4 separate regions of the Homo sapiens genome follow, and all the other regions are reported to be linked to region 1. Evidence: microRNA targets listed by miRTarBase, many of them from high-throughput screens and not tested one by one. Region 1 holds a microRNA gene; each other region holds the end of a gene's coding sequence.

The links. Region 1 holds the annotated microRNA hsa-miR-548g-5p (UGCAAAAGUAAUUGCAGUUUUUG, at 1,073-1,095, opposite strand). A microRNA usually pairs through its seed, bases 2 to 8, with sites in the 3' UTR of a target mRNA and lowers its output. Matches are read on the target gene's strand: a 7mer-m8 pairs with bases 2 to 8, a 7mer-A1 pairs with bases 2 to 7 and ends in A, and an 8mer does both.
Region 2: miRTarBase lists RNF111 as a target of hsa-miR-548g-5p. Seed matches in the 3' UTR shown: 7mer-A1 at 2,657-2,663.
Region 3: the mRNA of POLI is a reported target of hsa-miR-548g-5p. Seed matches in the 3' UTR shown: 7mer-m8 at 1,257-1,263 and 7mer-A1 at 1,396-1,402.
Region 4: the mRNA of ZNF367 is a reported target of hsa-miR-548g-5p. Seed matches in the 3' UTR shown: 7mer-A1 at 2,462-2,468 and 8mer at 2,011-2,018.

Annotation. Positions count from the first base shown.
Region 1 is chr4:147,343,609-147,346,796 of GRCh38, forward strand. It overlaps MIR548G (microRNA 548g), which reads right to left and starts at 1,109; the gene lies at 1,021-1,109.
Region 2 is chr15:59,094,612-59,097,799 of GRCh38, reverse strand. It overlaps RNF111 (ring finger protein 111), which reads right to left. Exons shown (of 14, transcript NM_017610.8): 14 at 381-3,017. The coding sequence ends at 2,900. Among named protein-coding and RNA genes, the nearest start is that of CCNB2, 8.9 kb to the left of the region's middle.
Region 3 is chr18:54,294,129-54,297,316 of GRCh38, forward strand. POLI (DNA polymerase iota) reads left to right here. Exons shown (of 10, transcript NM_007195.3): 10 at 1-3,188. The coding sequence ends at 339. Among named protein-coding and RNA genes, the nearest start is that of POLI, 26 kb to the left of the region's middle.
Region 4 is chr9:96,385,503-96,388,690 of GRCh38, forward strand. It overlaps ZNF367 (zinc finger protein 367), which reads right to left. Exons shown (of 5, transcript NM_153695.4): 5 at 439-2,957. The coding sequence ends at 2,735. Among named protein-coding and RNA genes, the nearest start is that of SLC35D2-HSD17B3, 3.4 kb to the left of the region's middle. RefSeq lists an enhancer at 3,161-3,188.

The sequences.
Region 1 (3,188 bases):
AATCAAAGAAAAATATTATGCATGGTATGAATTGGGAGTTTATAATTCAGAAATTTACTAAAAATAATGACAAGAACCGAAAGTGAAAAAAGTAGCTTTATTTTTAGATATCTCTCACATGTGAGAGAATAACCTGATATTGGCCAATAACCAAATTAATTATTTGTTTCTCCATGAAGACTCCTTTCTGAATTAGAAGGAGAAAGAGGTGAATTGAAGAGCAGATTGAAAATGGAGATATAAAATCAATGACTCTTTTTTAAGGATGAGTCATCATGGCTTTTCTAGATGATTGATTGTGAAGTGGAAGAAATAGAACGAATTAAACTATAAGCATTTGAGCCCAGTAGTTCTCTGGGGCACTCTTCTCCACTATTTGAACTATCTTTATTTCATAAGCTAAGACTAAAAACATTGCCAAAGTGAACTGGTTCTCCAGAGTTTCTAGAGTGCATTATTATCATTCTCTAAAATGAAAATACATCTGATACTTCAAAAGACACATTGTTATGTTTTTTAATGTTTTGCTTATATTTCATCTCATTTTGAAAATGATTGAAGTAGCTTATAATAAATACACATAAACAATAAGCAAGTAAATAATTGCAATTGGAAACTAATTCTAAGTGAAAGACAATTATATCTAAGCTAATATCAAGAATGGACAATGACATTACATTTAACTCTGAGCTTTCTAGATGCCAAAATAAGGGCCAGTGATGAATTATGCATTGTTTATCTGAACAAAAGAATTATTTATTTAAGAGTTACACATCTTCTAAGACATATTTATGCATTTATTGCATGGATCCTTTTACAAATGCATTTAGACAACATAATAGACAACCACAAACAACTCCTGTCCAAATGTTTATAGGTTCACTAATGCATACCTACATATTAGTAAATAATTTATTTATGCACAAGTATGCTATGTGTGCATACATGTATATTTCTGAGTTACAGCATGTAATCTATATACACACATGTACATAACCATACATACAGATATACATATATGAAGTATTATGTTGGTACAAAAGTAATTACAGTTTTGCCATAGAACGTAATGCAAAAACTGCAATTACTTTTGCACTAATCTAATAACTCAGAGAAAGTGTTTCTCTAAAGGGGTAATGAAGTTGTGTAGATTGCTGGCAATGATGGCCCCAATTCTTTTCATCCCTGCGTGCTAACACTTGGTAATGTGATTTTGTCACTCCCTTGTCAAGTGGTAGAGTATAGTTCTCTTCCCCTTGCATCTGAGCTGTCTCTGTGGCCAGCTTTGGCCAATAGAAATGACTTTGTATGGCTTCCTAGCCTGGGCTTCAAGAGGCCTTGCAGCTTCTGCTCTCACACTCTAGTCCAGGCTAGCCCTCTTATGGATAAAAGCACATGCTAGCCCTCTTGAGGATAACAACCACCCTCAGAGAGAAGCCCAGCTGATGGTCAGCACCACCTGCCAGACAGTTGAAGAAAGCTTCTTTAGGCCATCTCACTCCAGTCGAGATACCAGATAACTACAGCTGCATGAGTGATCCCAGGAGAAGCCAGCAGAAGAACTGCCCAGCTGCAAACAACTCAAACTGGTAACCACCAGAATCATAAGCTAAATAAATTATTGTTTTAAGCCATTGAGCTTTAGGGTGGTTTTTATATAGCAACTGTTGATATAAGATTCAAGGTATAAAATTTCCTTATTTAATAACAGAAAAAAAGTGGAGTAATCTAGGGAACTATGGTTGCTCACATCACATTTCCCTAAGTTCTTTAAGGAGTTCTGAGAAAAGGGAGATGAAGAATTTACTTAGCTACATGTTTTTACCCCTTGGGTAGAATAAGTGTAAACTTACTTTTTTTTACAATACTTGCTCTTCTGACTTTTAAAAAGATAGATTTTAGTTAAAGGAAAGAATTCCTAGCAACAGCCCACATATTTTCTATTTCCTATTGCAGTCAATATGTTCCTAACTTTTTGGCCTGAATTTTCCAGGATAGTCCTGAGTTGTCATCATCAATCTATGCATTATTAGGCCTAATCTTCTGATTTGGAGTTGGAACAATATAGAAGCTATGGTTTGGCTGTGTCCCCACTCAAATCTCATCTTGAATTCCCACGTGTTGTGGAAGGGACCCAGTAGGAGGTCATTGAATCATGGGGGCAGGTCTTTCCTGTGCTGTTCTCAAGACAGTGAATAAGTCTCACAGATCTGATGGTTTTATAAGGGGGATTTTCTCTGCACAAGTTCTCTGTCTTTGCCTGCTGCCATTCATGCATGATGTGACTTGTTCCTCCTTGCCTTCCACCATGACTGTGAGGCATCCCCAGCCATGTGGAACTGTAAGTCCATTAAACCCTTTCTCCTATATAAATTACCCAGTCTCTGGTATGTATCAGCAGCATAAAAACTAACTAATACAGATGCTATATCTATATATTTTGAATACCAAAAGTATAATTGGCAAGTTAGGCATTTTCTTAAGGCATTTTCAAAGCCTGATCTGTATTCTCGCCAGATGGACAACACCCCCCAACTTTTCACAAAAGCATGTTATTCTTTTAATGCATGCAGATCAACAAAGCATGCACATTGAAGGACGTGCTGTCACTGGTATTGAAGATAAGACTCACGTGGACTGTGGCAAAAATAGAAATGGGAGACCAAAAAATATGTCTAATCTATTAGTCCAACCTAGTGATGATGGTGACTTGAACTAGAGTGTTGGCAATGGAACTGGGGAGAAGGGATGACTTCAAGGTTTTCTTTGAAATAAAAATGACAGGCCTCACAGAGAAAAGAAACGAGTAACCACTAATTCTGCTCTGAACAATTAAGTGGGTGGTAAAGGCACAAGGTGTGTGTGTGTGTGTGTGTGTGTGTGTGTGTGTGTGTGTGTGTGTGTAGGCAGGTTAAGTTTGAGATGCTTGTGAGACATCCAAGTATACATGTCAAGTATATAGTTAGATAGATGGGCCTGGAATGCAGATGAAAAATTAAAATGGGAATATTAAGTGTAGTGGGCAAAGGGGCTAGCAGAGGATAGTGAAGTTAAAGAAATCAAGTGTCAAATCAGTTAGAGCTTTATAGGATCCATAGTAAGAGCTTTGGATTAATTCCAGTGGCTTTGGAAACTATGGGAATTTTTTTAATAGGGATGTAAAAAATCTGAGTTACATTATAAAAATT
Region 2 (3,188 bases), not on the chromosome of region 1:
CACGCCATTCTCCTGCATCAGCCTCCTGAGTAGCTGGGACTACAGGCACCCGCTACCCATGACCAGCTAATTTTTTGTATTTTTAGTAGAGATGGGGTTTCACCATGTTAACGAGGATGGTCTCGATCTCCTGACCTCATGATCTGCCCACCTCAGCCTCCCAAAGTGCTGGGATTACAGGCGTGAACAAGTAACAGTTTTTAAAACAAAAGTAGTTTTCTCTAAGTCAACTGTTATGGTTCAAATGCTGAAGTGTGCTAGCAGCTAAAATAAAGTCACCAGAGTAAGAAAAACGTTTCAAATGATCAGTTTATCACAACTGTTATGGTTCAAATGCTGAAGTGTGCTAGCAGCTAAAAGAAAGTCACCAGAGTAAGAAAAACGTTTCAAACGATCAGTTTATCACAACTGTTATGGTTCAAATGCTGAAGTGTGCTAGCAGCTAAAAGAAAGTCACCAGAGTAAGAAAAATGTTTCAAATTATCAGTTTATCACTTGCATGTTAACAACAATAAAAATAAGGACTTGCTAACAAAAGAATTTTAGTTTTTATGTATTTGGACAGCTACCACTGAAATGTTCATTTTGACATATAAGATGCAGCAGGATATGGAAGACACCAAAACAAAGCACAAAAAGTCAAAATGTTCAAAGTCATTTTCTTCCTTACTTTCTTCATTACTTATCACATTTTTCGATAACTAATGGCAGTAGCTTAATAAGCTCCTATATTAACAATTCAGGTTTATGTCACAAATACTTTTATTAAATAAATTTCAAAGTAACAAAGCTTTGCCTACATTAAAAAAATCAGTAGCAATTATAAAACAAGTCAACAGGTAGTCGTGCATCTAAATCTGATGTAGTATTCAAAAATAGAGAAATCCACCTGTGCTTTACTTGTATCTGGGGGAACGTCAAGAGGACTCCATGACATACAGTTCTCCCCATCTTACACTTCTTCAGTCCCTTGGCACAGACCCGGGGTATTCCAGTGGCAAAGTAGTACATCCATTACAGGCTACTTACTTAAAGGAAGACAGGCTACTTGCTCTTTTCCCCAGTAAGATGGCAGACATAGGTCACTGACTCCTTCACTCTCCCCTGACCTTCTATAACCTCGGTTTAATCATAAGGTATGCTCTTTAAATCCATCGTCCATCTGCACACATACTATGTTGAAGCCTGTTAACATTGACAACTACTACAGTGTAACATTTACTAATATGAAGAAAAGGGCAAGTAGTCATAACTGAATGAATATAAATGTCAAATTATGCAAATGTCAATTTGAGTGAGATCACTATTGTTGAATTCCAAGATGTTTAATGTAAACTGTTTTTATAAAAACTAATTATGAAACACAAAGACAATAGAAATATAAGTTATTTATTAATCAATCCACTTACAAAGCAGGTGGCTTAATGCAAGCTTATTGACATCTTCACATATGATCCATGGGAACATGTCCTCCACATACAGACAGTGATATTACTGACTGGATGCATTTGCAATCTGGGGCATATTAAGCATATTTAAACAAATAAAATTAGGCTATCCTGTATATGAAAGTATCTTGATAATAATATGCATCCTGAAGTAGATTAAAACTTCCTCCAAAGGAGAAATGTTAGTATGTTAACTTAACTTTATATTCTATATTATGCAGTAAATCTTAACTATAGAAATTAAAAATTTTAAATCAGTGATCGACTCTTGGTAATGTATGAAGTGGGAGTATATAACCATAGCAACAGTAGGTTGACAGTATAATTTGTGCCTCACAGTATCTGCAGATTTACTGTTTTCAAGTTTAGAGAGAAATAAAACAAGAGACATGTAGATTCAGCTGACTTTATTTACCTTTAAACTAATAAAAATCCCTTAAAAGTGATCCTGGGACCTTTATAAGTTCTATGAATGCACAGATACCTGCCAGTGACTTAAATTCCAAATCTTGACTTAATGTGTCTACAAAATCAATGTAAGCAGATATCTTAACTTTTCGTGCTTAGCAGAAGACAACAAATTCTACATGTCTTTTTCAATTTCCCTAAAATTTTGTTAAATCTGCAAGTATGTACAATCTAGCTAATTGAAATTAATATTTAGTGTTCATCAGAGCTGTTTCACAGCAGCAAAAACTGAATCAGGGAAATAAAATTCTAAATGATGTAGGAAAAAGATAAATGCAATCAGAACAGCAGTCTAAATGTATGATATCAATATTCAACTCTTATCTGCACTGTGTTGAAAGGAAAAGGATACACCAAGAAAATTTATACTGATCACTCTGGTGATGTGACTACCACCTGCATCTGATTTATATGGGTTGTATTCTGTTCCCAGTATTAAGGATGGTATTTAACTCAGAACTCCATATAGTAAATATACAGCAGCCATTTTGTCCTAATTAAGGAATGTCTTAATACACAATATTATCATTTTCTAGAGGATCTTTATACATTAAACTAAAGTACATGATTGATTAAATTAAAGGTTAGTAATGGATAAAAAATTCATAATTATCAAGGCTTGGTACTATGTAAAAAACAAAAAGACCACAAAATTCTACTTACTAAAGCAGCTAACCTTGCCTGCAAGTTTAGGGTCACAAGCCCATAATATGTGCAAAGAAATGCAATACAAGGAACCATGCAAAAATACAGTAAAATGATACAGAAAAATGTCAAATCTAGAAAAAAAAGCTTTTATAAATACATCAAAATCAACTGTATACATAAACTGTAGGTCTAGCATTAGTTGTACCATATAGCAGAGCCAGCACTCTAAGTTCAATGCTTCCAAATCTGCGCAGGTAAGTCATGCCATCTTTGGTTGACTGCAGTACCAGGAAGGATGGGAATGAGAGGGAGGGCAAGAGTTCTGAAACATGGTGTCAACTTTCACTTGGCAGCTGGGCCTCAATGTCCACTCTGCATATGGGGCACTTCTTATTGGTAATCAACCATTGGTCAACACACACTTGGTGGAAAAGGTGCATACATGGAAGACGTCTATTATTGGCAAGAAAACAAAAAGCAAAAATTAATTTTATGATAATTGTACGTAGTTAACAAATTATATATGTAATAATTCAATAATGTTTTGAAGGTACTAAGCATCTTCCTCTTCTATAAAAAACACATCGATTAAATTAGCACTCTGGGCAATATAATATATAAATG
Region 3 (3,188 bases), not on the chromosome of region 1:
TTAAAAGATGAACGAATAAGTCAAGGACCTAAAGAACCTCAAGGATTCCACTTTACAAATTCAAACCCTGCTGTGTCTGCTTTTCATTCATTTCCAAACTTGCAGAGTGAGCAACTTTTCTCCAGAAACCACACTACAGATAGCCATAAGCAAACAGTAGCAACAGACTCTCATGAAGGACTTACAGAAAATAGAGAGCCAGATTCTGTTGATGAGAAAATTACTTTCCCTTCTGACATTGATCCTCAAGTTTTCTATGAACTACCAGAAGCAGTACAAAAGGAACTGCTGGCAGAGTGGAAGAGAGCAGGATCAGATTTCCACATTGGACATAAATAAGCATATTCAGCAAAAAGGTCTGAAAAGCAAGGGAATACCATTATTTTCGGATTAGCGGTTTATTAAGCTCTTCTATATTAAACACTAATAGATATTCAATAACGGAGTAAACTGTTCCAGATAAAGCAAGAATAGTTGCAAGAAGTAAATTCTGGCACAAAGCGTAAAAATATAACAGAAGAAATAATGTAAAATACTATCTTTTATGTCTAAAGCCATTTTATATTACTTTTCAATAAAAAGAATATCATGGTCAACATAGAATATTTTTCATGAATTGGTGGGGAGATGTATATGTTTATATATAAAAAATAGCCAAATCGTTGCAATGATATGGTAAAGGACACATTTTTTTTTTTTTTTTCCTGTGAAATGTGGAATATCTCAAATTCAGCCTCTTAGGCTGAATAGCAAATCCTACTGCCAACTAACCTATTAAAAATATAGATAGTTTTGACTAAAGTACTACATTACATTTAGTATGTTGACTTTTAAAATACCAAAGCAATTTATATTCAATTAATGCTTCTTCATACACCAAGAATCTACCACAATACACAGCACACAAAGGCCGTTCAATAAACATTGAATGAATGAATGGTTTGGCTAGGGCCAGGGTGGGGAGTTAAAGTGAGAGGAGGGTATATGTTATAGAGAACAGTGGTAGAAGGAACTCTCCGTGCAAGTAAATTAAGGGAAAGATGGACACCAGAAAGGCAAGGTGATGGGCCTATAAGCATACTGGATAATGGAAGAAGTCCATTTCTTTCTAGCTAGTTTGAAGGGCCTAAAAGCACTGAGATGTTTTTGTATCTTCCCTACATTTGGAGATGATATTAGGTTGTCATAACAACCACAAATATAGACCATTACTAAATTGGTGGATGTCCTCTTTCTCCCATTGTTATTGCCTTCCTCTTTTGCCTGCTAAACTAAAAATTGGATATAAGATTGAGAATGTATTATATAATTTGCAAGACATAGAGGATGTTTATAGAATATACTAAAGTATCCCTCAGCACCAATATGGGAGTATCCTGGTCTCAAGTTTATAATTTTTGCACATATAATCTAAAGAAGAGACTTTAAAAATAAAGTACACAAATATGAACCAAAGAGTAGCTTAAAAATACTTTCTTCTAGGTCTGAAATTTTCTTTTCTTTCTTTTTTTGTTTTGGAGACAGAGTCTCACTCTGTCGCCCAGGGTGGAGTACAGTGGCGCAATCCCAGCTCACTACAACCTCCGCCTCCCAGGTTCAAGCAATTCTCCTGCCTCAGCCTCCTGAGTAGCTGGGATTACACGCATGCCCTACCACACCCAGCAAATTTTTGTATTTTTAGTAGAGATGACATTTCACCATATTGGCCAGGCTGGTCTCGAACTCCTGGTCTCAGGTGATCCTCCACCTTGGCCTCCCAAAGTGCTGGGATTACAGGTGTGAGCCATTGCTCCTGGCCCCAGCTCTGAAATTTTAACTTAGTTTTGGATTCCTTGGAATTTGAAAATATGCTAACACGAAGGATTGTAAATAGGTAGTTTGAGGTTATCAGGAACAGTAACTTGAAGCAAGAACATCAGAAATTGTTCACCATGCAAATATTTAGTACTCTGAATCAAGGAACATAGTATTTTTTACATGAGTATTCCAGTAAGGTAATTAAACTTATGAAAAGGGTATATAACTTTTTGTAAATCATTAAAACATTTTATAGTCCTTGTAATGATTTCAGGACCTTGGACAGCTAGAAGGGGCTTAAGAAAAAATGGCTAAGAAAACAAAGTAAATGGTTTTGGCCAGCTTAAAAAGAGAAAGCAAAATAGTTAAAAATACATTTCATAGATTGAGAATGTACGGGCTATGTCACAGTTACGCTACTTATTTTGTGGTTTTAAGTTAGTCTCAACATCTTTGGGCCTCAGAATCAACTTTTTTATGGGATCTTTTTTCTCTGTTTTTAAGATTATCTCTTTTTTCTTTGGTGCTTTGCAGGTTTACTGTATTATTTGGAAGTGCGAATTTATTTTTATTCTTAGTATATACTGGCTTCTTCCTGTATCTTTTAATTCATGTTCTGTAAAATTCTCAACCACTAGCTCTTCAAATATTTCTTCTCTATTCTAGGACTGTATACAAATGATAGACTTTCTTACTGTATCCTTCATGTCTCTTAATTTCTCATATTTTTCATCCTCTTGTTTCTCTTTACTGCATTTTGGGTAATTTCATCAGCTCTATCTTTCTGTTTACTAGTTCATTTTTCAGTAGCATCTCACCTGCTATTTAAAACAATGATGGTTTTAATTTCAATAAATATATTTTTCATTTGATTCTTTTTAACTTCCCGTTTACTCATTACAGTCCCTTGTAAGTCTGTTTCTAATTTTTAAAAGTCAAATATATGATATTTTTGATAATTTCAATATTTTAAGTCTTTATAAGTCTACATTTAAGGTTATTATTGCATATCATTGTGACTTATTTCCTTGAGTATGTGTTAATCTGCGAGAAGACAGAGGGCCTAAATTGTGTATGTTTTCCTTCAGTATGATTTGAGTTCGTTGCTTCTCTGGGTGAGGTGGTACAAACTCCTTGGCATACTCTATTCACCTTTGTGGATCCTGATTGAATGCCTTGTCTTAAGTGTAAGCTCCCTGACCCTTACTACTAGCCGAAGGTTTTGTCTCTGCAGGTCAATTCCAAACTAACAGGCAGATGCTGTTAGCTATCTGCCTCCAGGGATAAACCCCATCTTTCAAGCTTGCTTCTTGCTTGATGCTTTCTGCTGCTTTCTTGCTTTTGTTTCAGCTCGAGTTTGTTGTTGTTTTTTTTTTTTCCTGTTTCTGTCT
Region 4 (3,188 bases), not on the chromosome of region 1:
TGAAAAAAGAAAACCAATTTGCTAGACTCTTAGAAAAGTACACAGGCTTTAAATGGATTCTTGAGGAGCTGACCCCAGAGACAACCCATCCTAAATGTAAGTGAAATGAAATCCCTTTTCCTTATTACCCTAATTTAAGGCCTGGAAATGGGGTGGCAATAGTTCAATACTTATCCACAGCAGTATATTTTTAACACTGTAGTAATGAACCCGATGAGGAAGTTAAATATCTATAACCTTAAAAGCCATAATTAAAGTAAGAAAAAGCAATCCACACTGTACTTACAACTACGCAAACATGTACTGAAATAATACTGATGGCTGAACATAAGGCTGTAGGTGATGTTTCTATCTTTTAAATTTTTTTATATCATGGTTATTATATTTTCGATAGGAAAACAAATGATAAAGGCTTTAAGAATGACCGTGTACTTTAAATTTTAAATTAAAATAAATTTTTATTCAAAGCATCTTTTAAAATTACAGCATGTTTATTCTTATGCTGTTAACTCTGCCAAACTACAACTTAGCCATATGAAGCATAAAACACTTCAAAAATTTGAATGTAAACCATTTTTTAAAACAAAAAGCAGTCTTAACACACCTCAAATTTTAGATACCAATGTATTTTTCCAAGTATATAGCTTATATCAAAAAGAACATTTTAAATGTTTCTAAATAGTTGTGATAATTTCTTAAACTGTTGCAATTATACAAATAAAAAATGTTTATGAAAAAACTATTAGAGTTGACAAAAGCTGACTGGAGAAACAAGGAAAAACCCTTACTTTTGAAGGCCTTAAATGTTATCATCTGTGAATTGGCAAATATTTGTATTTGAAAAATTCTTACTACCCTTCCTTCTTTAGTTAAGTTGATCAAAGTTCAAATTTCCCAAGACTGATGAGTGTTGTTTTTAGTTCATTAAATCACATATTTGAGAGCAAAAATTCTAGAGGAAATGCTGAAACATAAACCAAGATAATTCAGATGCTATAGTCTCTCTTACCAGCTTATAAGTGCTCCAAATTAAAATTCTATATACCACATTACAAAAAAATTCTTAGACCATTACAAATATAAATTCTCTTATTACAAAAAAATCCCTAAAGATTTGTAATTTACTGTACAGAGGAATTACATTTTTAAAGTATGTCCTCATCATACACATTATTCGTAACTATCGTATCTTCTTTCATACTTTTTCTCCTCTTCAAGACATTTACATGCCTCCCCTTCCCCGTGGCTACATATTTTAAACTATCTGTGTACTATGACACATTGGGATTTTTGGATAAAGAAGCCTACTTTGTAATGTTTAAACTACATCTGTAGGAACGTCTTCAACTCAAAAAAGCTAAAAAGGCACTGAAGAGCCCATATTTCCCTCTATTACTCTGAGTTTTACTCCAATTAAGCGATCTGTAAGTTACCATGCTATGCATGTCATTTAGTTCTGTTTAGAACAAAAGCCAAAATGATGGAAGTTTTGCCTACATAAAGGAGGTGGTCTGCTCAGCTCTTGATTTTTCTGTTCATGCTTCAGTACATAAAGTGGTGTTTAATAACTTTATTTGGAAAAATGGCTTCAAACCACCACACAAGTTAACACACTTGCAGTTAAAACTATTTCAGAAGCCTACTTATTTGAGTAGCTAATATTTTCTGCAGTGTTTAACTGATAGCTAAATTTAGTGAACACAAAATAGCTTGGCATGTTACTCTGAAGTAAAGCAAGAAGGTGGCTTTATGCACTGAAAATATAAATATGGAGGCTTCCATTTGCTAATAATTCTAAACAAGCAGTACAATTAAAATGTAGTGTTTGCTAACAAAAGATCTAAAACATTTCACTACAAAACAACCCTGCAGGTGTCCCTTTAGTAAAAATCCAAGTGCCAAATCTCATTACAGGGCCCTTAATATGTATTTTTAAAATTACCAATTACTATGTTACCTAGACTTTGCAAGATTAATCACTCAATTTCAGCAAATGAGAAATATGAAATGTGCAAAAGTTCCCAAGTTAACATGCTAGGGATGACAAGTGCTTTTCAAACTTAAACATTATACTGAGTTGTAAAGCCCCAGATAGAATAAGACTGATTTTGCTCCAATTTCAAAAATTCTGAACTATTGTGCATCTTACCAAGAGCCTCAAATATCTATTTTCTTCTAAGTCCATTACTTAGAACATCTTCCAAAATAGCCTCCCATTTCTCTAGCCTTAGTGGGCACAGTATTTTGCAATTAAAATTATCTATCTTACATATTTTATACTTTCTTGCTTGCTTCAGTGTTTACAGTATTGTTAAACATACTAATATATATTGTTAAAAATGATCTTATAAATAATCTGTTTTAATCTTCTTTGGCTATTTGTACCATTCTGTTTTTCAAACAAGTGTCTTATTCAGAAAGTGCTTCCTGTGAGAACTGCTTCCAATGAATGCATTAAACTTGCAAAATCTAGCTTCCCACAATATGTAGTTTTCTACCCTGTACTGTGCAGTCCATATTTACAAAATATTTTAAACTTTACGATGAATTCATTTCCATATTAAAAAAGTGCAGTTCTCTCTCACCCCATATTCTGGGGCAATAACATTCTTCATAAATTTCTACAGAATAGCAGCCTATGATAAGCAAATAAGGTGCTTAGCTTATGCCCAAGGATCTACTTTTTAAGTATGCTGGGCAGTACTTTTGTACAGTGGAAGAGTCAGTGTCCAAGCTACTGTCGGAGTGGCGCCCCAGTCAGGTTGGCAAGCTCTATGAGCGCGAGGGCTCCATGCAGGCGCTCCCGCTGCTCCTGCAGCCGGCGCTGGGCCCCTCTCTTCTCGTCGTCCTCTTCATCAGACTGAAGGTATTCCAGAGGGTCCTGCTGCTCCTGATCAGCCTTCTGAACCAGCTTGCCTTTCAAAGTGGGGGTGCGCTGCTCTCTCATTTCCCAATACCTATGTGAAATGCAGCAACATTAGTTACATGGCAGACATGAAATTTCCAAATGTTTACTTTTCTTTTAAAAAGTTCCATACCACAATATTACTTTTATGTGGTTCAGTTTATAAAGTTATAAAGTGATTTAACATAAATTTCCTATTTATAGAGGAAAGAAACTGAAGTTCAACGAGGTTAAGAGACGTGCTCAGGTTTCCACAATAAACCTGGCAGTTCTAGATCTTCTA